2 separate regions of the Homo sapiens genome follow, and region 1 is reported to be linked to region 2. Evidence: microRNA targets listed by miRTarBase, many of them from high-throughput screens and not tested one by one. Region 2 holds a microRNA gene; the other region holds the end of a gene's coding sequence.

The links. Region 2 holds the annotated microRNA hsa-miR-4745-3p (UGGCCCGGCGACGUCUCACGGUC, at 1,869-1,891, shown strand). A microRNA usually pairs through its seed, bases 2 to 8, with sites in the 3' UTR of a target mRNA and lowers its output. Matches are read on the target gene's strand: a 7mer-m8 pairs with bases 2 to 8, a 7mer-A1 pairs with bases 2 to 7 and ends in A, and an 8mer does both.
Region 1: the mRNA of ZNF704 is a reported target of hsa-miR-4745-3p. Seed matches in the 3' UTR shown: 7mer-A1 at 4,441-4,447.

The regions. Positions count from the first base shown.
Region 1 is chr8:80,637,244-80,642,323 of GRCh38, reverse strand. It overlaps ZNF704 (zinc finger protein 704), which reads left to right. Exons shown (of 9, transcript NM_001033723.3): 9 at 847-5,080. The coding sequence ends at 958. Among named protein-coding and RNA genes, the nearest start is that of LINC02986, 100 kb to the right of the region's middle. RefSeq lists an enhancer at 789-1,988.
Region 2 is chr19:803,109-808,108 of GRCh38, forward strand. MIR4745 (microRNA 4745) reads left to right here and starts at 1,832; the gene lies at 1,832-1,893. It overlaps PTBP1 (polypyrimidine tract binding protein 1), which reads left to right. Exons shown (of 15, transcript NM_002819.5): 3 at 453-528; 4 at 928-1,100; 5 at 1,184-1,330; 6 at 1,424-1,594; 7 at 1,721-1,831; 8 at 1,905-2,079; 9 at 2,384-2,461; 10 at 3,300-3,448; 11 at 4,761-4,794. RefSeq lists an enhancer at 127-649.

The DNA.
Region 1 (5,080 bases), not on the chromosome of region 2:
CTATAAAGTGCTTCCTTTAAGTGAAAAGGTGAAAGTTTTCAACTTAACAAAGAAAGAAAAAAATTTTTATACTGAGATTGCGAAGATCGACAGTAAGAATGAATCTTCAATCCATGAAACTGTAAAGAAAGAAAAAGTCATGCATAATATATATATAGGGTTTGTACTATTTGCAGTTTGAGGCATCCACTGGAGGTCTTGGAACATATTCCCCACCCTTAGCAGGGACTGCTGTACTAGAAATTGAGAATGGTGGAAGCATTTGAAAGTACCTACTTAAAAACTTGAAAGAGCAATGTTGCTCTCTACTGGCATTTCTTGTGTTTACTTGTTTAATTCAGTTTTATGAAGATGCCCAAATGGACATGTCCACAAGTAGACAAATAGAAGCCTAAGGGATATGGTAGCAAATTTTAACAGTTGAGTGTAGTGGCTGTGAAAACAACCAGCACATATTAGAGTCTGAACCTAGAGAGAAGTCGCTGTCTCCCAGGCTGGAGTGCAGCGCGATCTTGGCTCACTGCAAACTCCACCTCCCGGGTTCAAGTGATTCTCCTGCCTCAGCCTCCTGAGTAGCTGGGATTACAGGTACATGCCTGGCTAATTTTTGTGTGTTTTAAGTAGAGACAGAGTTTCACCATGTTGACAGGCTGGTCTCAAACTCCTGACCTCTGGTGATCCGCCCACCTCAGCCTCCCAAAGTGCTGGGATTACAGGCATGAGCCACCATGGCCAGCCTTTTTTTTTTTTTTTTCCTCCCTCACTCTTGCAAGGGATTTTTGAGCTCTCCATAGAATGCCCATTGAATTCCTCCCACTAAACTAACCTTCCTCGTCTGTCTTACAGGAAGCCCAGGGGAGAGGGCAAAAAGTGTCGGAAGGTGTACGGGATGGAGAACCGAGACATGTGGTGTACCGCCTGCCGCTGGAAGAAGGCCTGCCAGAGGTTCCTCGACTGAGAGACCCCCAGGCAGAGGGGCTCAGGGCCCTGAGCCGCTCCTGCCCTGGCCTGCCACTGCAGGTGTTGGAAAGAGCTTTTCCTACTGAATAAAACACAGTTGAAGCCAGGAAAAGCCCTTTCAGGAACCTTGGAGGAATAACAGCAAAAACACAGAAAAATTGTTTAAGTCACCACCTATGACAAAAGAAAGTTGCTCTTACTGAGAACCCAGCTTGGAGCAGCTATAACTAGTTTTTTTTCCTTCAAAAGAAAAGTCAACTTTTTTTGCTGTATGTCTAGACTTAAAACTGTGGACTTCTGTAGCAATTGAACCAACAAAGCCCATTTTACCTAGAAAGGAGGCATATTTTGATAAGCTTTCTGAATTATGCCATTTTCAAGATTTTTTTGACACTTAAAAAACAAGCTACAGGTTATTCAGTAGCATTTGTACAAAGATCAATACTTACTTTTGTTGTGAATAATCTTTTCCGTATCTTCCATTTGACTTCTTGGAGCAGTATATGTCAGGATGTGTTGCAAGACAGCGCAGCACTCTGGGCATCTTTTCTATGGCTTTTTGTTTGTTTTTCTTTTAAGAATGGCCCCACACTGAACCATGGTAGAGCTATTAGTTTGTAGGGCCCCAGATGGCATAAACTCGAGAAGGGATTGTCCACGGAAATCACCAGCAGACTTCAGCCCGAAGCTGAGTTCAGGAAGTCCAGCTGTCACTGTTGGGAAACATCTAGGAGTCTTCCTTGGATCCATAAGAAGCTCTTCCCCTAAAGGCAGCACAGCTAACTCTACTCTCTACCTGCCACAACTCAGTCAAGAATTGGCACCTGTAGCCATCTGGGTAAGCCTCGATGCTTCTTTCAGGGATGTGACACAAATGGCAACTCGGAGCTATTTGTTACTGCTTGTCTGTCAAGATTGTAGCCAGGTTAATGGGTCATTTTCCTTCTCTCCAGACTCCACCACTGACTGATTTCAGAAGAGGTAGAGAACTCCAAACTGTCCCAGCAGGTTTGCTTTAGACAACAGAGCACAGCCCACATGGCCCTACCTGTTCAGAAAGTCATGTTAGATCAACAAACCACTTCCATTCTGAGTGCACTTTTATAGGTTTTATGCTTTAGCATGTCCGGGAGATGAGTTAATTAACAATATAAACATTATGTGAGTAAATGGAAGGTCCAAACTTTAAGTTTTTCTTATAAAAATATTGGAGCTATTCATTTAAGAATTTGCTCAAAAGGGAACATAACGCCAAAAGGAAAATGCATGTAGGTATAGGAATTTCTCAGTTTAGTAGGGCCAGGGCTTGCACTATGTTCCATTTATTGGGCTTCGTAACTTACTTGCTTGTTTGTTTGGGGGATAGTGGTGTGGGGAGAGGGGAGTCGTCAAGCCCTATAAATAAGCTCATTCTCTATCTACCCGACTCTCAATTGCCCTGCTAAAGAGTTATTTCTCCTATACCTATGCAAAGTAGGAAGAGCACCTTATAGGAGGCACTGTATAGGGACAGGGGACATGGGATCAGCCATAGGAATGTTAAATGAAATTGCACAGAGGAAAGTTTAATATATGTCTAGAGATTATACATACACTTTTTTAAGCGTAAAAAGAAGACATCTAGTAATGACAGATATTCTTTTTATATACAAGCAAAAGAAAGTATAAGGAGGTTCTACAGTGCAACATCCACAATCTGTGCATTCACATATTATGGGACTTTTATTTTTTAAACTCTCATATAAATTTTTTAAAATTACTCCTTGGAAGAGATCCTGGTTTTTTTCTTCATTTATTTTTTTCTTTAAAAACATTTATTTTAAGAGAAGAGAAAAAGAGCTTCATCTAATTTTGCATCTTGATTACCAATCAGTACTAGTCACAGCACCAGCAATACTGTATGTTTTAGACTGACAAGGTCAGCCAGGAAATGGCATTTTTTTAAACGCAGAAATGTGTTTGTTTCCTCTACTCTAACACGTCCTTTCTCCTCCTGGTGTCCTGTCACCCCCCATGCAGCACCACTGATGCGAGATGATGCTCTGGCCTGGTCCAGGAAGCCCTGAGCCATGGGCAGATTGCCCAGTGGCCTTGGGCGGCCAGAGCTTGTCACCTGTTTAAACAAGTTCACCATGTGTTTAAATGACAGGGTACAGTCCTGGACCAGAGGTTTTTCTCTTCAGCAAAGCTCCCTGGCCCTTGATCGTTGGACTGTTACTAATAGAAAAAGATTCAAGTCATGAAGTATAAAATCCATCCCCCATCCCAGAACTTTGAAACACAAGGAGGGAGAGATCTTTGCTATGGAGCAGTCCTGGAGCAAAGCCCCGTGGCTTCCACCCCCAGATATATACCCCATAAGTAGTGCTGAGCTCCAGCTTAGCTGAGCCAAGCTCAGTCCTTATCTGGTGTTCAGCCAGTGCACAGGTATAAGCAGAACTACAGAGCTGAATGTAGCTTCCCTGGGATCTCTTCTCCTTTCTAAAGCATTTTTCACACAGTTCTGTACCTCCTACCCAAGTTGGGGCTGCTTTCTGCCTGCTAGCCCACGGCTCTGTGTACTTTCTTTTCTGGCTTCAGGTGCAGACAGACCCTCAGTACCTTCCTGGACACAGACACATATTCCCTGGACCAAGGCGTGGAATAACTAGTAGACCACCAAGCCACAGGTGGCTGGTCTTGAAGAAAAGGGATTATACTCCTTACAGGCCACCCAGAAAGCTATGAATTCCAATATACACCACTGATCGTGCAAGTTAGGGTTTTTTTTTTTTAAACGTAGCATTATTTTGTTATATTTTGGAACTAAATGAAGTGCCAAATTAACCAGACATTCGTTTGATGCCATCTCTGTGGAACCAAGTTCTCTGTGTGTGTTCGTTTGGCTGGGAGGAGGGGGAGGACTGGGCAGACTGCTCCCACAGCAGGCTGGCAGTGGAACTGGAGCCCTGGCCACCGCAGGGAGCTCAGAGGCCAATCTACGCAAAAGGCATGCAAAACAATGGATTCTGGTCCCAAAATATTTCTAAGTAAGGCATGATGTAGCCTTTTGATTTTTTTTTTATCCTTTGACACCCCAGCCTTCAGAAAAGGTTTTTCATCTCTCTCCAAAGAAGTCATTTCATAGTGACTGACAGGACATTCTCCAGAGAGCGACAAAGCAGAGTGGCCAGCAGGCAGTGGTGTTAAGCCTTGGGCCTTCCCAGCAGATGTGTGCTGCATTGGTGGGTGGGAGGCAGTGTGACAGCCTGGAGAAAACACACAGGTAGCAAGGGAGTCAGGGGGGAGGTACAAGAGGGCTGTGGACACCTGGCTCTTGCTCATCTTCTTGGTGCTGATCAGCTGGTGGTCACCATCCCTAAGTACCTCCCAGGGAGCTGCCATTTTCTCCTCTGGGAGCAGCTGCCTGAAGCAAGGAGAGAATGACCTGAAGGGAAGTACCTCCGGCCAAGAGTGCAGGGCTGCTGTGCCTAGCCTGAGCGGGCCATCTCTAGCAGATATGGACTTCTCTCCACCACACTAGCTGAAAAGTTTTCTCCCTTGGTTGGCAAAAGCCAGTGTCAGGAAAAAAGCTGTGGGTTTCTGACCAAGAATGTGTGCGCTTAGCTGCAAAGTGCCTGTCAGCAGCTCCAGGCACCAACAAGGTGCCCTTTTATTAGACAATTCCTGCCCGAACATAACCATATTGCAGATGAAAATTTTCAATAGAGAATGACACAATTCTTGACCTTTCTAAAAACTTTTCAAAGAGATAGTCACATGTGTATATGTTGCAAAAGATTTTTGAAACTGAAATGTCCTCCATTAAATCTCAAGAGCACTCGAGTTTTAAGTCTGCTGTTTCTGGTGTCACACTAAGACACACTTTTGAAAGCAGCCCTGGGTTCTGAATTAGTTGGCACTGCTGAATCCATGTTCCCCCTTCATCAGACTCCAAAGTGCAGCATTCACTTGCAAAGGTTGAGAGAAAAGTGGCCAGAATTGTACATATAACAGAGAATACCTTGAGAATAGTAGCAAAATACTGTAAATAATATTCATTTCCTCAGGGAAAAATAAAGGGCATGCAAAAATAGGTCTGGAGACTCCTGAAACTAGGAAGAATTTTGTTATCACTAAA
Region 2 (5,000 bases):
AGGACGGCTGCCTGGGCCCTGCCGTGTGCTGCTGGGGGGGCTGGCTCCATGGAGGGGGTCCTCTGCCCTGCTGGCTGGTGGCTGAGGCCCCAGGCCTGTGCCCAGGGCCGCTGGCAGCACAGTGAGGCCACGTCCACAGCAGAGTTGGCCGTGGAGATAGTGTACGTGGTGCCCTCCGTAGCTGAGAGCCTCCCAGCCCCACACTGGCTGAGTACCCAGGGCTTCCAGAATTTGGAAAAAGGAGCAGTGTTTTGGTCGTGGAGCTGTGGGGTGCCGTGCGCGTCCATGGGCTGGGTCTGCGCTCAGGCTGCCCTGCCGTGGAAGTGTGGGTGTGGGTATGGGTTGGGGGTCTGGGACCCCAGGCAGCCCAAGTGGGAGCAGGGCCGGCCGGTGGGGAAGGGAGGCTCTGGCCTGGTGGGAAGTGCAGCTCCGCGTTGTCCCTTCTCTTGCAGCGGGGATCTGACGAGCTTTTCTCTACTTGTGTCACTAACGGACCGTTTATCATGAGCAGCAACTCGGCTTCTGCAGGTAAGGCCGGGACTCGGCCCAGGGCAAGACCCGTGGGTGTCTTTCCCTGGAACAACGTTACGTTCTTGTTCTGGGACTCTACTTTCCATCTCCAACTGCAGGGGCCCATGGTCCACGCTACAGACCCAGGTCCAAGTTCTCGCTGCAGAGAATTTCCAGGGAGGCGCTGGATGGATGGTCCAGGCTGGCACTTGGACCTGTGGGCGGGTTGTCAGGAGCTGTCGGGAGCAGGGGTCCTGACTGTGCAGGTCTTGGCCTCTCGCGCTGCTGGTTCACATGCACCCTCCTGGGGCTCAGGGTTGGTCTCCGTAGCAGGCAGGGCTCTAGGGGGATAGCAGGGACCTTCCTCTGTGGGCTCCTGCGAGTTGGTGCCTGCATCTCATGGCACCCCCTTTTCAGCAAACGGAAATGACAGCAAGAAGTTCAAAGGTGACAGCCGAAGTGCAGGCGTCCCCTCTAGAGTGATCCACATCCGGAAGCTCCCCATCGACGTCACGGAGGGGGAAGTCATCTCCCTGGGGCTGCCCTTTGGGAAGGTCACCAACCTCCTGATGCTGAAGGGGAAAAACCAGGTACCTGAGCCGCGTTTCTCCGGGGTGCTCACACCGTGCAGGCGGGGACGAGGAGGGCCCAGCGCTCACTGCCTCCCCAACAGGCCTTCATCGAGATGAACACGGAGGAGGCTGCCAACACCATGGTGAACTACTACACCTCGGTGACCCCTGTGCTGCGCGGCCAGCCCATCTACATCCAGTTCTCCAACCACAAGGAGCTGAAGACCGACAGCTCTCCCAACCAGGCGGTGCGTGGCCCCGCGGCGGACCCCAGCAGCCCGGGGACCTCGGGGGTGGGCCCAGCCGCAGGGGCCGGGGACTCACGGCTGTGCCTCCCACAGCGGGCCCAGGCGGCCCTGCAGGCGGTGAACTCGGTCCAGTCGGGGAACCTGGCCTTGGCTGCCTCGGCGGCGGCCGTGGACGCAGGGATGGCGATGGCCGGGCAGAGCCCCGTGCTCAGGATCATCGTGGAGAACCTCTTCTACCCTGTGACCCTGGATGTGCTGCACCAGGTGAGGTGGTCCCATCACCGCCAGGGCAGGTCGGCTGCTATTGCTGTGGGCACAGGCACACGGGAGGGGCCTGGCAGGGCTGGTGGGCACCGGGCAGGAGCTCATGCTGTGGCCCGGGACCTGCAGATTTTCTCCAAGTTCGGCACAGTGTTGAAGATCATCACCTTCACCAAGAACAACCAGTTCCAGGCCCTGCTGCAGTATGCGGACCCCGTGAGCGCCCAGCACGCCAAGCTGGTGAGTGGGGCTCCCGGGACGGCGCCCGCCCTGGCCCTGGCCCGGCGACGTCTCACGGTCCCTCTCCCCTCAGTCGCTGGACGGGCAGAACATCTACAACGCCTGCTGCACGCTGCGCATCGACTTTTCCAAGCTCACCAGCCTCAACGTCAAGTACAACAATGACAAGAGCCGTGACTACACACGCCCAGACCTGCCTTCCGGGGACAGCCAGCCCTCGCTGGACCAGACCATGGCCGCGGCCTTCGGTAAGAGGCTGCCCGACGCGGCGCCAGTGTGCAGAGTGGTCTATTAGGGCCGCTCAGTCCGGAGCCCCGGCGGCACGGGCCCGGCCCTGCACCAGGGTGATGCACCTGCTGCTCTCTGCACGGCCAGCACAGCACGGTCCAGTGTCCCCCACGTCGGGACCACGGCCCCCCCTGGAGCAGCGGATCTGCCCGCGAAGGCTCTGCCGGGGCCGCCCGCCGGCCGGGTTGGGGCCCATCCCGCAGCACAGCGCCCGCTCGCGGTGGAGGTTGTGGGTGCGATGATTAGTGTCTCATTTATTTCTAGGTGCACCTGGTATAATCTCAGCCTCTCCGTATGCAGGAGCTGGTTTCCCTCCCACCTTTGCCATTCCTCAAGCTGCAGGTATTCAAACGCTTGGTCTTGGTTCCCCAGCGACTGCATGCCCACACCACCTTCCCAGGCAGCTCCGCATCCACGGCGGCAGCCTGGGCGGACTGGGCACTCGAGTGCCAGGTCAGGGGCCCTTCCCGGGAGAGGGGACGCCACGTCCACAGAGCAGGCTTGGCCAGGGCAGTGGTAGGACAGGGCTGTGGAGGCCCACGTGTGGACGGCGCCAGCCAGAAGCCGCTAATCGCACAGTCTTTGTGGTCTGGTTCCCTTCAAGCACCTCCGGGCGAGCGCGAGGACCGCCAGTGGTTGGAGGGATGTCTCTAGTAGTTGAATTTGAGTGGCCTGGTAAGCGCGCGGCCCGAGGCTGAGCAGCATGACCGGCGGCGGGACGTGTGTGCGTGGCCGTCCTCCCGCTTCCCTTCTGGGACCGGGGCCCGGCCGCCCCAGTGCTGGCCGTGGACGGAGCAGCGCGTGCCGCCCGGCGGCCGCCTCGTCTGCATGGAGGCATGGGCGCGCATGCGCGGTGGTCCCGGGACGGGCCCTGCTTGCCGAGGGCCCCGTGTCTGTGCTGGCGGAGCCGGAGCTTTTCTGTGCTGTGGGCGGGGCGCATGCAGATGAGCCCAGGCCCGGCCCGGCCCGTGCTGTGAGGAGAGGCGGGCGCTGGTGCAGGAGCCGGCGGGTGGCTGTGCGGGGGTCGGACGACCCCACAGGCACCCAGGGTAGGGCCAGAGCCAGGGCCGCCTCCCGCGCGGCTCGGCTCCTCGGTGCATGAGGACGGGGAGCGTCGGCCTCTCCCACTCTGCGGTGGAGTCGGGGGCGCCGCCGCTCATCTCACCTCCTGCTTTTCCAGGCCTTTCCGTTCCGAACGTCCACGGCGCCCTGGCCCCCCTGGCCATCCCCTCGGCGGCGGCGGCAGCTGCGGCGGCAGGTCGGATCGCCATCCCGGGCCTGGCGGGGGCAGGAAATTCTGTATTGCTGGTCAGCAACCTCAACCCAGAGGTACGTGGGCTTTTCCTCCGCGCCGCCGTTCCTCCCGGAAGAGCGAGCAGGGGATGTTGTGCTCGGGCTCGGGTCCCGGAGCAGCGCCGCCCCTCGCTGTGTCTGCGCCTCTGCCCTGGCAGCCCCTCTGCTGCAGCGCTGAGACCCTCCTTTTCCAAGATGGCTTGAGTTTTCCTCTTTTCCTGAATTCACATCTTGGTTCGCGTTTTCTCTTGCATGATACGCAGAATGAATTATTTTTTGGTTACCCAAAGGCAATCTAAAAATTACTTGGAGCTGAGCAGGGCGCGCAGTTCAGAGCCCCAGCAGGCCGCCCTGCTGGTCAGCGGGACACACAGGGTTAGCGCGGCGGGGTGTGGGCAGCCCCTGTGGCTCGAGAGCCTGTCACTTAACTGGTGGATCCGTTATTTCCCAGAATGGTTAAATTCCCCTCGGGGAGAGCTTGGGTGAAACAAGAGGCCCAAAATATGTAACTCTTGATGGATGGGATCCTCCTGGAATCAGCATTTCAGGCTGTTCTGTTTCCCGGCAACTCCTGTGACTTCCTCAAGGCGGTGCCCAGCCTGGCCCTCCCTCGCGGGGGCCCAGGACGCACTCCCTGCCTGTGCCTCTTACCACGAGCCGGGTGCTGTCCCTCCAGCTCCTCCTGAGCGAGGCCGTGCACTAACAGACTCGATCTCCCTTCACGCCTGTAATCGTCCTTAGAGACTGACTTGTGCCACAGCTGCGGGAGACAGCGCTGCTGCAGGGCTTGGCTGAGGTGGCCGCGAGCGGAGCTGCACGCGCGCTCCTGGGGGGCGTGGTTGGGATCGGCTTCTGGGAGCCCCTCCAGCAGCGCTGTCTCTGCCGGCATGTGAGTGAAGGTGCTTCTCTTACCGTGTGCCCGTCGAGGTAAACCTGTAACTGGAATGTGTGTGGAGTGTGACTGATAGAACACTACCTGATTCTTATGTATTTACTGACCTGTGTTTTTTTGCTACTTTTTTTCTTTTCTCCCCTTCCCCTTTCCCTATTTTTTTTCTTGCCCTGATCCGGAATTTCTTTGCCAACTGACTGCACGGTACTTCTGCTTCCTGTTGTTGCTTGAAACAAAACAAAAACATAAACAAATAAAAAACAAAAATTCCCCCTCAAACCCTGCTCTCCGGAAACCAACCTGCCCTTGAATATTAACATCCTGACAACTTCATCATCCATCAACCACTGCACGCCTGCGGGGACTGTCTTCCTCGTGTGGACGATTGGCAACTCGCCCCCCTTGACCTCTCCCTCTCCCCTGTCCCTCCGCTGCCTTGCTCTGCTGTCTCTAAAGAGAGTCACACCCCAAAGCCTCTTTATTCTTTTCGGTATGTTATCGTTCACACTTTTATTACCTTGTTTTCATTAATTGAGATGATTTTGATGCCCTGAGACGTATTATGAGTTTGCGGTTTGGCACTCTGATGCTCCGTGGCATCCGCCTCGTTTTATGGTTTGCTTTCGGTTTGCGAATTTTATTTGGTCCCGTAGATACGTACGCATGGTTTATCGCCCTGCATGCTTTTCAGAGTTA